Linked DNA regions of Homo sapiens. The protein of the gene in region 3 purifies or fractionates together with the protein of the main gene of each other region. This does not show direct contact. Each region holds a gene or a part of one and is shown on either strand. Other genes may lie near its edges.

Evidence for each region.
Region 1: the proteins of DUSP22 (region 3) and LARS2 purify together in Homo sapiens (affinity purification with mass spectrometry; 2 studies listed by BioGRID and IntAct, with this or other methods). This does not show direct contact.
Region 2: the proteins of DUSP22 (region 3) and POTEF purify together in Homo sapiens (affinity purification with mass spectrometry; 2 studies listed by BioGRID and IntAct, with this or other methods). This does not show direct contact.

The regions. Positions count from the first base shown.
Region 1 is NC_000003.12:45,545,566-45,549,933, reverse strand, and holds the end of LARS2 (leucine--tRNA ligase, mitochondrial), read right to left. Parts: intron 2,584-4,368; coding exon 2,404-2,583; 3' UTR 527-2,403; downstream 1-526.
Region 2 is NC_000002.12:130,105,197-130,112,232, reverse strand, and holds part of POTEF (POTE ankyrin domain family member F), read left to right. Parts: intron 1-131; coding exon 132-238; intron 239-1,552; coding exon 1,553-1,690; intron 1,691-1,875; exon of another isoform or gene 1,876-2,946; intron 2,947-4,148; exon of another isoform or gene 4,149-4,153; coding exon 4,154-4,224; intron 4,225-4,426; exon of another isoform or gene 4,427-4,646; intron 4,647-7,036.
Region 3 is NC_000006.12:288,627-295,500, reverse strand, and holds the start of DUSP22 (dual specificity protein phosphatase 22), read right to left. Parts: upstream 3,015-6,874; 5' UTR 2,962-3,014; coding exon 2,941-2,961; intron 1-2,940. UniProt on the Homo sapiens protein: Dual specificity phosphatase; can dephosphorylate both phosphotyrosine and phosphoserine or phosphothreonine residues. Activates the JNK signaling pathway.

The DNA of each region.
Region 1 (4,368 bases), on a different chromosome or scaffold from region 3:
ACGTGGAGGACAGAAGATGTGGGCTTGGATCCCAGTTCTCCTACTTATTAGCTGTGAAAACTGAGACAATTATTGAACCTCAGAGCCTGGGTTTCTTCTTTTATGAGAGAATAATTCCTTCCCTCTAGAGTTTTTGTGGGAATTAAATAAGATAATTATTGTGAACCTGCTGAGTCCAGTTTCTGACCTCAACAAGACAGTCAATAAATGGCTGAGATTATTCCCCACCACCTCACTCCCAGGGGTCAGAGTTTTCTGTCCAGTTGTTCCATTACCCATACTGTCTCTTAGTATGTACTGATGAGCTCTTGTTTGCAAAAGCTTTATCCTCTTGGAGCAATTTCTTCAGAGCCATGCTGGTGTCAGCCAGCTGGTCAGTCTAGCAGCCTTGAGGCTTTACTGGCCCATTGCTCTGGTCAGATCACATGCAAATAAAGGGCTCCCTTCCCTCATCTTGTTCAAGACCACTTAGCTTACTAGGAAATAACAAGATAATCAAAATCACTCACTCCTTCCTTGTACCAAATATTTTCATGGGCTTATATTTAATCCATATTCACTGCCATGTGCAATGAGACTGAGTACATTCAAGTCGGCTCTAGCACTCTAGACTTCTGGCCCCTGTCTTCCCTTTTGGTCCAACTCTTGGTCCTGGACCAAACTTATCCCCGCTAACCTGAAGATTAGGAAGAGGAAGAACTAGATAGAAATGATGGCTCAAGTGCATCAATGTGTCCAGTGATTCTCAAACTTTGCTGCCCATTAGAATCACTTGTGGAGTTTTAAAGATTCCTGGTGTTCAAGCCACACCATGGACCAATTAAATTGGAATATCTGGGCATGAGGACCAGGCAGAGTATTAAGTCTGAGAACCAGTGACTTAATTGCTGTTGCTAGTTTGCCTGTATCAGTGTTGTCTACCATGGACTGTAAGTTCTGGAACAAGAAGAACCACATGTATCCCACTTTATAGCATTCCATGTGGAGTCAGACACACAGCCAATGCTTCCGATGATGATGGAATACCTCAATCTGTTTGTAATTAACTCTGAAATTGGAATATGGTGTATTCCAGGATCACACATATGTCCTGAAGTCATAGATGATAAACATTTTATTACACTAAAAAAGTCATCTGTTAACTGCTGAACTGCAGGGGGACCACATGTGAGGCTACTTCAGAAAAATGGCATCAGATAACATATATAGATTTCTGGCATTATAAAATGGCTAGATTCTCCCCTACCTTCCCTCATTAAATATTAATCAGTGGCTTAGGTCAGTTCTAGTGGGAACACTTAATTGCTGACTTCACATAAAACCAGGATTAGCCTAATGTGCCAATGGTATGAGTCCATTCCTGGCCATCTTCCCAACAGCCAGACCGCTGTGGCTTGGACACCGGAGGCAACATCTGGGGGGCCTCAGTTCCACTCCTCTGTGGTGAGCTTGCTCTTCCTAATAACTGGCTCTGGAGTCACATCAACAATGGTGGCATTGCCATCTGGGGCCCACATGAGCCCTCTGGGGCGTGCTGCATCCCTACTGGGCTGCGGTGGGGCTCTGAGGTTGGGACCAGCAGCCTGAGCCTGGTTCCACTTCACTACACAGCAAATTGTATACCCAAGGGAGTGGTTATGACTTGCTGCTCCTCATTCATGTGAGGAAGTGGTGCCTTGCCTGGGATCCTGTGTGTCAGAACCACAGCAGGCCTGGGAGGCACATCCAGCTGGGGTTGGGGAGGACAGGCCTGCATGACAGAGCTGGGGAGTGGTGGGGACACAGGCAGAGGAACCAGCACTGCCTGCCTTTTGATTCAAAGCAACTTCAGAAGATCCCTGTGTCCATTTCCACATATTGGTTATTTGAACATTTCCTAAATGACTTCCTCATCCAGCCTGAAGGCAAAGAGACCATTCACTACCATCTGGAGGCTCAGTTAGCAGTTCCAAGTGGCTGGCACATTGCACCTGAGTCCTGCAGTTCCTCAGGCTGGCCTCAAATTCCCGAGAAGTGCCTAAGGCAGAGCCATTTCCCAGATCCGCAGGCTTCCTGGCTGCTCGAGGGGCACTGCTCCTTCCTGCTCCCACCAGCAGTGTCTCTGATGGCTTCCCATGGGATCAGATGGCCTCCTCTACCTGCAGTGTGGGTGGGGGGTGAGGGGCAGGATGTCCAACCCCCTCCTCAGTAGCTCATATTTCTCCTTTGCCCAGCTCACCTTCACCCCAGCACCAGGCCACACTACAGAGGCACACTGTTGACTGCAGTCTGCCACAGGACCGAGGTCAACAGTCAAGACATTTGTCTTTTCCCTTCCCCTGGGCCAGCAGACATCGCCCCCTCATCCCAGGCCTGGAAGGAGGTTCCTCAGAGGCCCTCGTGGTAGCTGCAGCCTCCTGGCTGTCAATCTTGCACCAGGAAGTTGATGAGGGCAGTTCTCGGGGAAAGGAAGGACTTCTTGATGCTTCGTCCTTGCAAAAGCCTGACACCCAGCTCGCTTTGAAGAACAAATTCGTGGACTTTGTCCTGGTCCCGGGCAACTTGTTGGGGCACAGGAATTTTGCCACAAGCTTTATTGTTGATCTGAGAAGGAGAAAAGCCAAGATAAACAATGAGGAACATCCTCAGAGTGGCAGGCGGCCCAATACCAAACCTCCTGCCTGTAAAGGGCATGGCTGCATTTGTTTAGGGGAAAGGAATAGAGGTGGAGAAAGGAGGAAGTCAGCACTCTGCTTCCCATAAGGGTAAAATGCAACCAGCTGAATAGGATTAATGCCTAGACCTGCAGAAAGAGACCGACACTGAGACTGCATGTGAGTGCCCGTACGTGGAGTGAGGACCGCCTTGCATTTTCTGAGCACTGCTCCCATACACAGCTGTGGTAGAGATTATGTCAAAAAGCCTCAGCATGAGATGGCTTGGGCCATTTCCAGGCAGAAAGGGATTATTCTGTCATCGGGGCTCAAGTTTAAGTTCAGATCCAGGTTAGAGTGAGCTGTCCCCTCAGATTTTACCTAGGTCTCAAGTGGACCAAACAGTTGACGGTTTCAAGGGGGACACAGTCAAACTTCTCTCTCTGCTGACTGGCTCCAGAAGGGGGCGCTCTAGTGTGAGGACTTAGAAATTGGAGCCACATCTTGTCACATTAATCACTCTTTCTCGCTTAACATGGGTCAGTACAGTTCCAGACACAGGTGGGTATTCACCGAATATTGATTCAATGAGGGAAGGTGACCACGTGGCTCAGTTTCTGAAGTCATGCTTCCAAATCCTCAATCCCATTGCTCCGAAATCTACACACACATTACTTTCACTAGCTCTTATTTTTCACTTGGAAAATATAGTCACAGTCTTAGGAAAAGTTACTAGGAATAATTTCTCAAGTTTCAACCAAAGCACATTATCAAATGTCCCCTAATCACCCACTTCATTTTTTCAGTTTTGCAGAACTTGGTGGCATTTTTATTGTCTGCATTAGCCTAGGTCACAGGGAGAGGACGAATAAAACACAAAGTCCTGGCATATTATGAAATACTGTTTTGAAAGCGTGAGGCTCCATGCTGCAGCGTTTTAAAGCGTTCTGAAGCTGGGGAACTAAGTGTGTGGTGTGAAGGACTGTGGCCCCCCTGCCCTGGTGTTTCTGAGCCATTAGAAGCTGCCTTCTTGCAAGGCCACATGCTTGGCTGGACTGAGACCCTGGAAGAGACCTCCCAACTGTCACCCAAGAGCCATGCCCCTAGTGAAGTCCTGGGGTCCCCAACAGGGAATTCTCAGGACATGCAGTTATTAGTGAATCATGTCTTTCCTCCTATGGAAGAGCAGCCCAGGGCAACATCTCCTCTGGGCCACCACCTACAGAGGGGGTGCTGGGTGAGGGGGAGCATGGTGCTCTCATGTGGGGAGATTCAGGTTTGACTCTTAGGCCTGGTCTTACAAGCTGTGGGATCTTGAGCTTAGTTTTTTTTTTTTTTTTCCTTAAGGACAGAATTCTCCAGATTCTGGAGTGAATAACCTGTGTAAAGGGACCAGCTCACTAAGCTGCACTCCCTCTGCCTTTGTCAAGAGTGCTGGCCAGGATAGGAGCTGGCTGTGGGATGTCCTCTTTGACGCATGGCCTCAGCACAACAATGACCCATTTCTAAACCTTCGAGCTTCCTGTGCTTTGCTGGAGCCGGGCAGGCTGGTCCTAAGTCATCACTGGTGACAGCCTGTCCAAGGGACCTGAGTCATTCTTGTCCACAGCTGGGGCTTTGGGGGCAGGGCATGTGATCTCTGAATGTGGCCATCGTGCTCTGAGTCTTTCCCTTGCTGCCTCGGGCACCCTCACACGGTTCTGGCTCCCCAGGCCTCCCCTGAGTTGCCTTACCA
Region 2 (7,036 bases), on a different chromosome or scaffold from region 3:
GAAGGAAGTGACTACATTTTATTTACTTCTATGCGTGTAAGTCCATAAGATCTTATATAAAGTTTCCACTTCGGTTGAGGAATATGTACTTTTTTGAATTACATAGGTTTTTGCTTTATATTGTTTTACAGCATGGCCTCACACCACTGTTACTTGGTGTACATGAGCAAAAACAGCAAGTCGTGAAATTTTTAATTAAGAAAAAAGCGAATTTAAATGCACTGGATAGATATGGAAGGTATAGTTCTTTCTTTTAATCTGTGTGTTGTAGATGGACAGCAGTCACTCAAGTCATAAATATTAAATTAATAAGATTAATGTATACTTACTGGGATGTAGTGATCAGTATCAACACAAATCAGTTAGGTAGAAAAACAATTACTTGGGCTGGGCAACATAAAGAACAGTTTTAGTAGGATTCATCTTCTCTTATTATATTGACTGATGTTATTTGTTATGTGACATTTTTGGTTACATGATCTTATGTTAGCTTAAAGGATTTCATATTAATTTTATGAAGTTTGAACTTTAACTTTTAGTTTACTTTATGACTCAGTATTGAACTTCTTAACCCTTTCTAATAGTTTTTAACCTGTGTCTTACATGCTTTTCCATTAAATATGCTGTATTAAACATAAATAGGGGTTGAAAATCCTTTTGTCTTTTTAATGACTTTGCTTTAAGTTGCTTTCTTTGAAGAATATTAGTGTTAGCTTATCCCTACATAACAATTAATTGCTGTTCCCACATACTGTGGGTTCAACAGCTTTTTTCCTTTTGTTTTTCCAGTGTATTTTGATGTTTTTATTTTTAATTGGTATGGAGAGAGGGAGTGAAGATAGTTTTAAGTGGATACACTTTTCCTTTAATGAAGACAAGCCGTACGTGGGTGATAAAGAGAAAAGAGCTAGGCTTTGGATTCACACAAGACTGGGTTTAATTAGTAACTTTCTTACTTGCTAGGTGTGTGACCTTGGGGACGTTATTTACCACCAAATATGTTGTCATATATGAAAAGTAGGAGAATATATCCTTCAAAGTTGGCTGTGCATAAGTAAGAAAGATATATGTGGCATTTAATTCAGTGCCTAGCACATGGTTATTGGCACCATTAACTGAAACTCCTATGACTACTATTCTTACCATTATTATTACTGCTTTGAGCATGCAGAGAGCTCTTATTTCTCTTACCCCCTAGCTGATTTTCTATTACAGCATGTCAGTCTAGGGAAGCTGTGACAAAATCTTCACTTAAATCTTTGTCCACCTCAGATAAGTGGCCCTAACATTGTTTCTTGCCCATCAAAGGACTTTAAATTAGTAGCTTCTGCTATGCAATACCCCACTGAGATAAGAGGGTTTTTTTTGGTCCCTTCCTTTTAACCTTGGTGGCATTTTACAAAGATGAACACTTGAGCACTCAGGTTGCTTATGTCTTTTAGTGCATGTAAATGTTTGATTCTGCACAGACAGGCAAGATGTTACATTGGTAAAGTATATCAAATTAGCTTTAAAAATAACTTTATTACAGTTCCTATCTCTGTCATTTTAGAACTGCTCTCATACTTGCTGTATGTTGTGGATCAGCAAGTATAGTCAGCCTTCTACTTGAGCAAAATATTGATGTATCTTCTCAAGATCTATCTGGACAGACGGCCAGAGAGTATGCTGTTTCTAGTCATCATCATGTGTAAGTGTTTACATTAAAAGGCTAGTTAATGCTGAATTGAGGTTTAAAATAATTATAACAGTTGCATCTCACATATCAGGTGAGATGTCATAGTTTGGTTCAGGTAGTTTTCGCGTGGCAGTGAGTTTTAGTCCCCTGCATCAGCCAGAAATCAGACAAAAAGCAAGACAAGTTAGAAGTACCAATGGGTGCGGGATTCTTTATCTCAGGACTTTTAAGATCTTTATCCTTAGAGATCCCAGCATTGTTCATTTGATCCAAGTGTAACACCTATGCAGGGATAAAAAATAGTGTCACATCTTTAATTTTTCTGATTAGTTATTTGGGTCTTGAAATGTCCAGTTTAGCGGAAAGTCTTGTACTGTCTTCTGGGGACTATGTCCTACATACTCCTTGAATTTTTCAAGAACCGAAGGAGTTCACTAAATCCAAGGAAGACAGTCCCTTTTATCAAGTCAGAAGGAGGAGGAAAAAAGACATTGCAATCATTCTGTTGTTTCCGTTGATTCTGTTGCTGCTTTGTGGCCACTCAAACTGGTCCTGCTGCCTTAAGATGAATCAGTAGATTCAGATCCCTCAAGTCTTCATGGCGATTCATACAGTGACTTTGATGTTTTTTAATTCCCATACCTATGCTTATATGCTCAGCCATTGTTCCCAGAGCACCAGCCCCCTGCTCTGGCCGCTGGGCATCCTGACTTTATCCGCACACAAAGTGACCAAATTGACCCTTCCCCGCATATTCAGAACCTAATGTGGAACCCACATCTTAGCCAGGAATTAGCTGAGACCTTCATGGTAAGAGATCCTTTGAGGCTGTTGTTGGTCTTTTCTCTGGCAGATGTTAGGTGGGCTTGTTCTAAAGGGTGAGAGGGGTTCAAATAATGTGGCAGAAGGAGGTCAGTGTCTGTTTCCTCTTTGCTACCAGATCTGTACTGTGAGGCACCTTTATATCCTGTATAGAACCTTGGGCAGTAGAAAGTCCCGTATGAACCTTGCCCTGAGCAGTGGCTCCCAGCTGTGGTTGGCCCCTTGAGTGATCTGATTTACATGATAATGAAAATTATCGGAGCTACTTCCATCTCTAGCTCAAGATTTTAAGATATTTTCAAACTCTAGCTCACAGGAAGCCATTGAAGAGAATTCTCAGAATCTCAAGTAGGTTAGTTGGACTTCACAGAGCCAAGCCTTGTCCATGACGCATCACTAATCATATGTAAAAGTAGGGCTTTGTGCTTGCTTCGGCGGCACATATCCTAAAATTGGAACAATACGGGGAAAGTTAGCGTGGCTTCTGCATAAGGAGGCAGGACAGATCTTTGAAGCATTCCATATTTTGTGCAGTCACTGGAAGGTCATTTGACTATTTTTGCTGACTAGCTCTGAGGAAATAGTGTGAATCAAAGCAAAATGGGTGCCACCCAAATATTGAAATTGTGATTTGTGCTGCAAAAATAGTCATGTAAGATGGTCTATGAGATGACTTTGAGCTGAATAACATGTTCCGTGCAAAATATATTGTTAGTATGTATGTCGAAAATTACAGAATGTCAGCTTGCTACTTCTCCGTGGAAACTAAAAAAAAAATAAAAGTAGACTTTTGGTCTCCCATGTCAGCTGGAATTGAACATCAATATAAAGCATTATCCTAACAGACATCTACTGGCTGAGAGTTTGAGTCGGTAGAGAAGGATCGTTGGTCCAAGTCAGGTCTTAACATCCATTGGTTTTTCTGCCCTTGGTGTGATTGATCAACTCCGTAATAGTGGACAATCACATTATCTACTTTAATGAGATATTTATGAATAAATTTAGTTATAAACTATGACATAGTTGAGATGCCCTGAATTATAAGCCATAAAGAGTAGGACAACTAAGAAGCAAAATTAGGACTTAATAACATTTTCTGAAAACTACAACATTTGCATATTAGAACCTATGAACAAAATACGCATTGGGTTTTATTTGGGATTCCAAGATAATTTTAGTCATAAAGTTTAGGAACAGATTATTCCATTGCTTTACTATTTCTCTGAGCATTTAAAAAATGTTATCTCGTTAAATCTTTATAACAACCTAGTGAAATAAGGCAGCAAAGTCCTCACTTTGTTGAAGAAGACATTGAGCCTAAGAGAAGCAAGTTGTCCAAGAACAAATAGCTGTTCATTATGGAGCTAGGACTTATGCAGAGTTGGGACACTTTCTATTATGTCATGCTAATGCTAGCTAATTTACTGGGTCACAGTGCCCTCGATTTATGACTATTTCACCTTACATTTTTTTCTTCTTTAATTAGAAGCTTAAAGAGAAGTTTGTAGAATGTACTCACAAGTGGGTGGGATAATACTATTAAGTTCTGTTATTCTGATATTGTTTGAAATACTCTTAATAATTCTACATTTGGTAAGTTTTTTTATATCAGTATTAAAATAGTAATTTGGTTTATTACATTTTTATACATAGAATTTGCCAGTTACTTTCTGACTACAAAGAAAAACAGATGCTAAAAATCTCTTCTGAAAACAGCAATCCAGGTAAGACTTGTGATAGTGAATTACTTTAGTCAGTTGTCCCCAATCTTTTTGACACCAGGGACCGGTTTTGTGGAAGACAATTTTTCCATGGGCTGGGGGAGGGTGGGGATGGTTTCAGGATTATTCAATCATGTTACATTTATTGTGCTACTTTATATTATTATCACATTGTAATATATAATGAAATAATTATACAACTTACCATAATGTAGAATCCGTGGAAGCTCTGAACTTATTTTTCTGCAACTGGATGGTCTCATCTGGGGGCAAAGTGAGACAGTGACAGATCATCAGGCATTAGATTCTCATACGAAGCACACAACCTAGATCCCTCAGATGGGCAGTTCACAACAGGGTTCATGCTCCAATGAGTATCTAATGCTATCACTGATCTGACTGGAGGCAGAGTAGAGGCTGTAATATGAGCCATAAGGAGTGGCTGTAAATACAGATGAAGCTTCCCTGGCTTGCCTGCTGCTCACCTCCTCCTGTGTGGTGTGGTTCATAATAGTCCATGGACTGGTATGAGTCTGTGGCCTGGGAGTTGAGGACCCCTGCTCTGCGTGGTCCTACCATAGATAAAAAAGTAAAAGTAAGGAATTTTTGATCACAAAAGAACACTGAAGCACAAGTCATGTTACATATGCTTGTCCCAATAAGTTCTCACTATTACTGACTTCATTCCTCCTCATTTGAAGTTGGAAAGAGATATATTTACTTTGTTGGAACAAGATGTGTTCTTCTACCTGCTGGTTAATTGTCATCATAACAGTAATTTTGTTAGAACAAGATGCTCTGCTACCATTTGCCAAAAGATTGTCATAATAAATATACAAATTGCCCAACTCTAGGCTCAGCAGATTATAATAAAAGCAGAAAAACGTTTCACGCTAACAAAAATGCTAGTATGCTACCTGGTTGTGGACACCTAATACATTATATTGTCCAAACTGTGTGAGGACACCTTTAATTTAGTCATCTATTTATCAAAGAGCTTTTGTAAGTTAGGTTTTATAAGTTGCAGGAGACAAAGATGGAATAGATGTAGTTTTGATCTTTAAGGTGCTCATAATAGAGCTGTCTCCATTTCATTTCTGTGCTTTTTCAACAGAATTTACAAAGAAAACATTTCTATTTATGTTTTCACTTGTCCACTTAACATATAACTATCAAATGTCTTTTAGATAGTAACCATTTTTCTAATGCTATAGACCACAAACAATTAAAAATACAGACAGGAGCTTTTTGTTATCATTGTCATTTTCATTATTTTACTACTTTATTCAGTGCTTACTGTGTGCTAGATGCCCACTGGAAGCTTATAATTATGATTTATTATATATTGATTATGTGCCAGACATATGTGATGAGGAATGAAAGTTTTGGGAAAAAGTAGGTATGATTTAAGGTAAGCATGCAGAGAGAGAAGAATTTTTCTAGGTAAAGAAGCAGAAGAAGAATGTTTGGCAGAAGGAACATGCAGCGAGGTCGTGTGTTTGCCAGAAGGAACATCTAATGAGATTGCCTGTTTGGGAGGAAGAGCAGCAAGTGCAAAAGACAAGATGCTTGAGTGAACATGGCAGGGTTTCTGAGCAGTTCACTTTTGCTAGTACCAAAAGTGTGTGATACGAGAGGTTGGGAATGAGGTGAATACTTAGCTAAGGCAAGTTTATGATAGACTTTTTAATACTATAGAAATGAGTAGGTCTTATCCTGTGTGCCATGGGAAATTTACTGGGTAGAATGCTTTGGACTGCAAATACTAGATGAACAGTGGCTAAAACAGTAGGAACCAGAGTTGTTTTGGTTGTTCATTGATATCCTAGGATCCCACTTTTCCCTCTTTCAGCTGTGCTGTTGACAGTGTTTTATTCACGTCTCCTTTCATGGTTGGCTAATCCGCAGCAGCTCCAAACATCTTGTTCTCACAACACAACATCGCAAGGGCTGCTTTTCTTCACATGTGTCTTTTAAACAGGGAGAAAACTTAGAAGCATGCAAAGGGCTTCCTGTAACATTTCACTGGCTGGGTCACACCACATGCTCATTCCCAAACCAGGCACTGGGAAGGTAAATACCTGATTAGCTTAGAATAAACATTTCTGTTTCTGAGGCTGAGGAGGGGGATTGGGATAATAAATATCCCAATAGACTTGGATTTCTTCTTCAAGAAAGAATAAGGAATGGCTATTGATAGGGAGCCAACAATGTGTGCTGCAGGGGCTCATTGGAGAAATTTGAGCAGGGGAGTCACAAGATTAAATTTGAGTATTAAGGCATTCTGGTTATGGTGTAAAACGGGTTAGCAAGCTTTTTCTGTAAATGGCCAGGTGGGCAATATTTTAGACTATGTGGTCTCTGTCATATCTACTTAACCCTGCTGTTGTCTGCTGTTGTAGTGTGAAAGCCACCATGATTATATGTAAGCAAACAGGCATGACTGAGCTCCTATAAAACTTTATTTACAAAGCCATAAGGCAGATTGGATTTGGCCTGTGGCCTATAGTTTGCTGGGATTGATGGAAGGTTCTTTACCATGTAAAGAAACCAGGAGACAAAGGAAGTTTTCGCAGTAGTCAGCTATAGTTTCCTTGTCATACATCCTTGGAGTAGCATCAATGTATTACAAGGTTTTCACCCGTCCTTAGTGAAATACATAAAGTTAGGAATCTCAACTACTTGTTTTAATATGTTGGCCTTTGTTTTTTTGGTGTTATGCTTTTTTCATTTGTTTTGCTTAATTTTTTTTATGTAAGAAATAACATTAATAGTTGGCAGGCTTTTTTTTAAATAAAAGCCATTTTGTAAATGT
Region 3 (6,874 bases):
GCCCAGTCCTGTCTTTATTTCCTCATCTTTAATTTTCTAGAATATAAAAGCCTTTTTCCCCTCCATCTTCTGTATAATCTGCTGCGTACACCTAACGGAAACGGGCACAATATTCCGCCGTACAGGAGCCCGGAACGGACCGACAAGAAGAGCCACCACAGGGATGTGAATGATAAAAACTGCTGTCCCAAAGCACTCAGAATGCAGCGTGCACTGTTTAGACCAGAAATGCTCTTTTGCCAAAAATGACCAATGTGTACGAGATTGGAAAGAAATCTTGTCCCAGTAACCTCAGGGCACACACATTCCAAGTTATGTTAGTTCCAAAGACATTGCACATATTTATAAATGTTCTTAGAAAAGGATTTCTAGGGGTAGCACCTTCCGCTGATTCTGCAAATCAACCATTCTTCTTTTTTTACAGATGAAGCCTCGTTCCAAGTCACACAGTAATATATGGAAAAGTTCTAGTTAAGGTTCTTAAGTTACTGGCCTCCTGCGATCTACTTTGCCACTAATGAACCTTGTGATTTGGGGTAGTTCCTCCTGATCTCACGTTAAACATGTTTACTGCAGCAGGATTCCTTGCCTGGGCTGAATGCCCCTTCTAGGTCACTTTCATCCCATCTTCTGCTTTCCCCACTTTTCTGAAATTGCCTATTTTATCCTCTGGAGCCTCTACTCCTCCCTACCTTGTGTTTGTTCTCTCTCTCACCCCCACACACATACACACCCTGTGTTGTGCAACACAGCAGCCATTAGCCACAGTGACTATCGAGTACTCCAAATGTGGCTAGTCCAAAATGAGATGTGATTTAGGCATAAAATACACACTAGACTTTGAAGGTTAAGTGATCTGGGGGTCCCGAGATTTTTCCTTTCACAAAGACATAGTAAAAAACATGGAATCTTCCATGAATAACTTTATATATTGGTTACATGTTGAAACAATAGTTTTAATATATTGTTAAATAAAATATATTATTAAAATTAATTTCACCGGTTTATTTTTTAATGTGGCTACCGGAACATTTTAAGTTACATATATAGCTCGCATCATATTAGTGCTGGACAATGCTGACCTGTACTGAAGGTTCTGTGAAGAATCTTTGGGTCATTTACCACTGTACTCCCTTTGCCCCCTCCCCACCCACTAGCACAACACCTGGCTCATAGTATGTACATAATCAATAAGTGTTGAAGCAGGGAAGTCTCTAAATCTCTCTATACATGTATTTCTTCATTGATACACTGTGAGTCTCTATTCACAAGATAATAAAAGTCAAGAAATTTATTACCCATTTTGAAAGGTAAAAAGTATATGAATATTACTGCTTTTGTTGAAAAGCATGAAAATAACGTTGATCCCTTAGGCAACCATCTGTATTCCTAAATATATTTTTTGAATTGTATTACACAAATACTATAAATTAAATGCTGAAAACGGTGGAGAGTGAACAGCTCAAGTGGGAAAACTAGAAACAGCCAAAGGAAAGCTGAGATACCACCACCAATGGGAAGGCAAACGGAGCCCACAGACTTATGATGACCATCTTTATTGTTCTGTTTTAATTTAAAAAGCAGAAGGCTCGTGGTGCTGATGGATTCCAGTGCTCATCGGAATATAATACAAGTATTTATCCAAGAGAGAGACAGTCTGTTTCCAAACTTGATCACTCGCCAAAAAAAAAAAAAAAAAAAAAGTGAATACAATTCTCTTTACCAAAATACCCCAGTATTGATATGCAGGTCCCAAACACACAATAGTTCTTTCACAAACTGGGTAACCAGGACACAATAAACACGACATGCGCACGTGAAAAGTTAGCTAGGTTTTCCCTGCCCTACCGTGAATCCGCATTTGCAACACTCCAGCCCCAACACCCAAACCACTGCTGACCCAGTGCTGAGGGACATGAAAAAAAACACAGCCACATTGCCATCCCCACCCAGTGTGGAAGCTGACGGCATGTAGAGATGTGGGTGGGTGGAGCGCAATGAAAAAGTGAAGCAGAAAGACGACTCATCTAATCCAGGACCATTCAAAGACCCGTAAAAAGGTACTTGTCTTTGTTGCGGGCTTTGTAAAGTCTTGTCAATCCTTCCTCGAAACCAGCCAAGTACCAAGTAACAAAATCCTTAACCCTGTGGTTCACATGAATACACCCCGGCAACTCTCAGCTGCCAGAGCTGGAATCTGGCAACTTCCCTGGACGGGAAAGGCTAGCCCACCGCCCGGGAAGTGAGGTGCGGGCAACAAAAGAACACAGGGTGGGGCCCAGAAACGGACGGGACAAATGGAGCAACACAGATTTTCCAGAAGGCCTCATCAGCGCAAGCAGCCAGCAACAGGTTGCCCTTGTTGCAGAAGTCACATAACCTAATCAACTCTGAATCTTTTCTCTCCTCCCCACTATCTAGAAACAGCTCAGGACTTAGGACTCTGTTAACTTCTCTGTCCACAAGAAAAACTTCTCTGTGCTCACAGGCACACACACAGAATCTGAGGAGAAAGAGGAAATTACAGAGGACACCCGTTTACTAATGATGTGGGGGGGGCGGTGGTGGCTTCAAGAGCGTAGTTTGGGAGCGAAGAGGAGGGCAAAAAAGAAGCCACATCCATTCGGAGCTCAGCTGACCTCTCGGCAGAACAAGTGTCAACGCTTTCAAAGGGCGCGGCTTGTTTCAGCCACGAAAACGCACCGGCTGGCAAGGCAGGCGGCTGGGGGCTGCCTACCCGGAAGCCGGGTGGGGTGGGGGCGGGAACACCTCCGAACCCCGACTCCGCGGTCGCCGCCCAGGCGCGCCGCCCCTCCCTCCGCGCCCGTCCCCACCGCGGGAAAGGGCACCCCGGGCTCGAGTCGTCGGGCAGCCGACGCCGGCGAGACGGCAGGGCGTCGGAGCGGAGGCAAACCCAGCGCGAACGAGGGAAGACGTTACCTTGTTCATCCCATTCCCCATGGTGGCTGAAGGCGAACGCTAGCGCCCCGGCCGTGTGGTCGCAGGCGCACTATGGCATGTTACAGGGAGGAGGAGCGGCGGGGCGGGCGGGGAGGAGGCGCGCGGGAGGGACTGAGTGCTCGCAGTGTCAACAAGTCAGCGGCAGGGACCGGCCGGGCAACCCAGGGCGCTCCAGAGACCCGGCGTGGAGGGCAGGGCTTTCTGTGCGGCGGCCTAGAACTTCCCGGCGGGAGCCGGGCAGGGGCACCGGAGCCTATGCCGGGAAATGGTCCCGCCTTGCCGGTCCCCGCCCCCGTGCGCACCGGGCAGGCCCAGCGTCCCTCCTCGCTCCGCCCGCCCGCACCCTGGGATTCGTAGTCGGGTTCCTGGCTGCCGCGCCCCACTCCGCCCTCGCGGACCCCGGCTCGCGGCCGCCGGGCGTGGGAGGCACTAGGCTCGGGCTCCCAGGCGGCCGGCCCCGGAGGCCAGAGCGCGTGCGCGGCCCGAGCCGCCCCGCCGGGACACCCGAGGCTGCGCGGCGGGGCCTGGCGGACGCGCAGGCGCTGCCCTGACCGGGCGGCTGCGCTCGTCTCGGAGCCCGCTCCCCGGCCGGGGGTCTCCAGATCCCCCTTTGGCCTTTTCCCCTGGGGCGACTCCGGGGGCCAGTTACCAGCAGTCGCTACCCAGCCTTGGCTGCCTCCGTGAATCAGGTGCTAATCAGAGGCCTGGTCTCTGGGGGCTCCCCTGCCTGGGTTTTCTGAGTGCGGCAGATTTAGGCTGGGGGATTTCCTGCGGCCCTGCCCCATGCACCAAGACCGAGAAGCCTCGCCTGGTGGGGAGAGGTGGGCTACGTGACTCACCCCGGGGAGGCCCGACCTCCCTACCCTGGGGGAGCAGATGGCTGGATCTCTGACCTCAGACCTCACGGCCTTAGATGATGTGTGTCCCTTAATGTCTGCATTGTGGTTCTGTCTGGAATGGATCAATTTCTAAACTGTAGCAGAATTGTTTTGGGTGTTCTATCAACGTTATTAAACTCTGAAGTTTCTCTCCAGCGACAGAATCCTTGAGCCAGTGGTTTTTCTTCTTAATTTATGTATCCTCAACAATGTCCTGAACATAGTAGGTGCTTAATAAATATTTGCTGAATGAGTACATGCGTCAATCTGACGTGCCCTGGCTCACCCCTGCTGACTTCATTTTATCTTCTTGCTAAGCGAGTTACACACATGCTGGTCTCCTGTCTGTTCCTTGAGCCTGTCAGGCTTGCTGGGCTGTGCTCTCTATCCAGACACCTGGATCCCCAGCTCTCTGCATACCTGCCTGTTATCGCTGAGGTATCAGCCCAAATGCCATCTCTCCTAAGAGGCTTTTCCTAACCACCCAATTCCAGGTTGGTCCTCCAGTCACTATCATATTACTCCGTATTATTGATCGGAAATACATGTATTTGCTTTCTTTTTATCTGTCTCACTAGCCAGCAACTTTCAGATTAAAAAAAAAAAAAAAGTTGTCTTATTCAGTAATACAGCCATGTGGCCTGGGACAAAATCTAGCACAAAATAGTGATTTTTAAAATATTTGTCAAATAAATTAATAATTTCTTGTGGCCGAGAAAACGGGTGAGGTTCTGAGGAATGTGAACGTTTGGAAAGAGCTTGTAGACTCCATCTGTCGCCATTTCTGTACTTGTACCCCATATCTTCTGGGCAACAAATGGTATCAAAACCCCCCGTGTAGAAAGCCCTCAATCAATATGCGCTTGCATGTTTTCTCTAGGTAGAATGGGACCCAGACCCGGAGTGCCCTTTCTGCCTCTTGTTTTGGGAGAGTGTTCCTTCTTCACTGCCTTCACTTCCTCTTCTCCCGCCTGCTTCTCAGTCACCTGGACAGCCTGCCCTTTCCCCTCTGCCACACACTGCCATTAAGTAACTGTTTTTACCACCTTCCTGCTTAGAGACAACACAGAATCGTTAGTGGACTGCCTGGGGAATCCCAGTAATCAGCCTCTATTTCTAATTCTTAAGGAGGTCTTGAGCAAGATGATCAACTTTTCTGAGCTAGCTTTTTTTTTCTCTTTAAAACAAGAGCATTAAACTGTGAATTTTTGAAGCTTCTATCCAGCAACCAATGAATTACTTCTGCAGCCTTCTGCCCTCCTTGGGCCATTCATCCAACAGTCAGATGAACGTTTAAGAACACAACCAGTTCATAAACTGGTACTTGACCATGAATGACAAATTCATACTGATTTTTTTCTTCTGTCATCCACTTGCAATATTTCTCTCTTATTCATACTCTTCTTGTAGATATATTTCTCCAGCTTGGACCATCTGCTTTTCCCCCTAAACTCAGAACCTGCCATGGCTTCCTCCTTACCGTCAAAATCAGCATTCAGTATGGCCTAAAAGGTCCACATGCCCAGAGTTCCTATCAAAATCTCAAATTTTTCTTTTGGGTTAAATAGGAAAAGAGGAGACTATTAACACCAGAAGTCAGAAGAGTAAGATTTAAAAAAAAAAAAATTATTGGTTTTGGCTGGGCGTGGTGGCTCAAGCCTGTAATCCCAGCACTTTGGGAGGCCGAGGCGGGCCGATCACCTAAGGTCAGGAGTTCTCGACCAGCCTGGCCAACATGGCAAAATCCCGTCTCTACTGAAAATACAAACATTAGCCGGGCGTGGTGGCGTGTGCCTGTAATCCCAGCTACCCGGGAGGCTGAGGCAGGAGAATCGCTGGAACCCAGGAGGCAGAGGCTGCAGTGAGCCAAGATTGTGCCACTGCACTTCTGCCTGGGCAACAGAGCAAGACTCCGTCTCAAAAAAAAAAAAATTATTGATTCTGTGGGGTTGGGGGGTTTCCCACAAGAGACTTGCTGTACTCTCCTCCACCCTAACCCTGAACACCTCTCTTTATTACAATAATAATTCCCAGTTGTTCATGTCTTGCAGTTCTATGACTTTTACTCTCTAGCTCTTGATTATGGAAAGAAAGGAAGAAGGGAAACACTTCAACAAAGCTGGCGTATTTCACATCCATAGTAGAATCTCTATTCATTTGTGCTTTATCTCACTCATAAAAATTTTAAGGCATCACAAGCCTGGTGGATTTTCACACTATGTAAGATTTTTACTTCCACTTTTCTTCTTGTTATTTTCTTCCTCTCAGTTCTGCCAACATCACAAATTTTGGCAACAACTCCGAAAGAAGTCAAGCCTTCATGTGTGCACAATAAGGAATGGTCTACAGAGTGTGTAGGATAGCTGAGTCCATACTTACACATGGTTAAGGATAACTGGTTAATAGTGTATTTAGTGAGCAGTAACCTTAAACTTTAAGGTGGCGGTGTTTAAAAGCCCGCAAGCAGAAGCTCAACCATTAGAGTTAGCCAAATCATTATAGGTGTTAGTGATAATTTCAGAGCATCAAGATTAACCTCTATCCAACAGAGAAGTAATTATGTAATCTTCACTGGCCTCTTGAACATATTGCAGTCCAGGGTTTCTCAACCTCGGCAAAACTGACATTTGAGGCTGGATACATTTTTGCTCTAGAAGGCTGTCCTGTGCACTGCAGAATGTTCAGAAGCATCTCTGACTTGTGCTCATTACATTTCAGTAGCACCCTCTCAGTCATGACAATCAGAAATGTCTCCAACCCCCTCTCCTCAATAACCAGCTAAATCTACACTAATAGATCATGTTAGTTCTCTGCAGAATTCTTAAGCCACAATTGTTCATTATTAACAAATTGAGAACAAGAAGTTAAAATGAAGATCTAATCTAGCCAAAGCCTGACTAAAAGTAAAAGAAAGTGAGAATCTAATGAATTGTGGAAAGAAGAAAAAAGGTGGAACCTGGAACTACGGAAGCAAAAGCACAAAACATTTTCTCTGTTTCTCCAGCATTGTCCAGAGAGAGGCTGCCCAGTTGAAT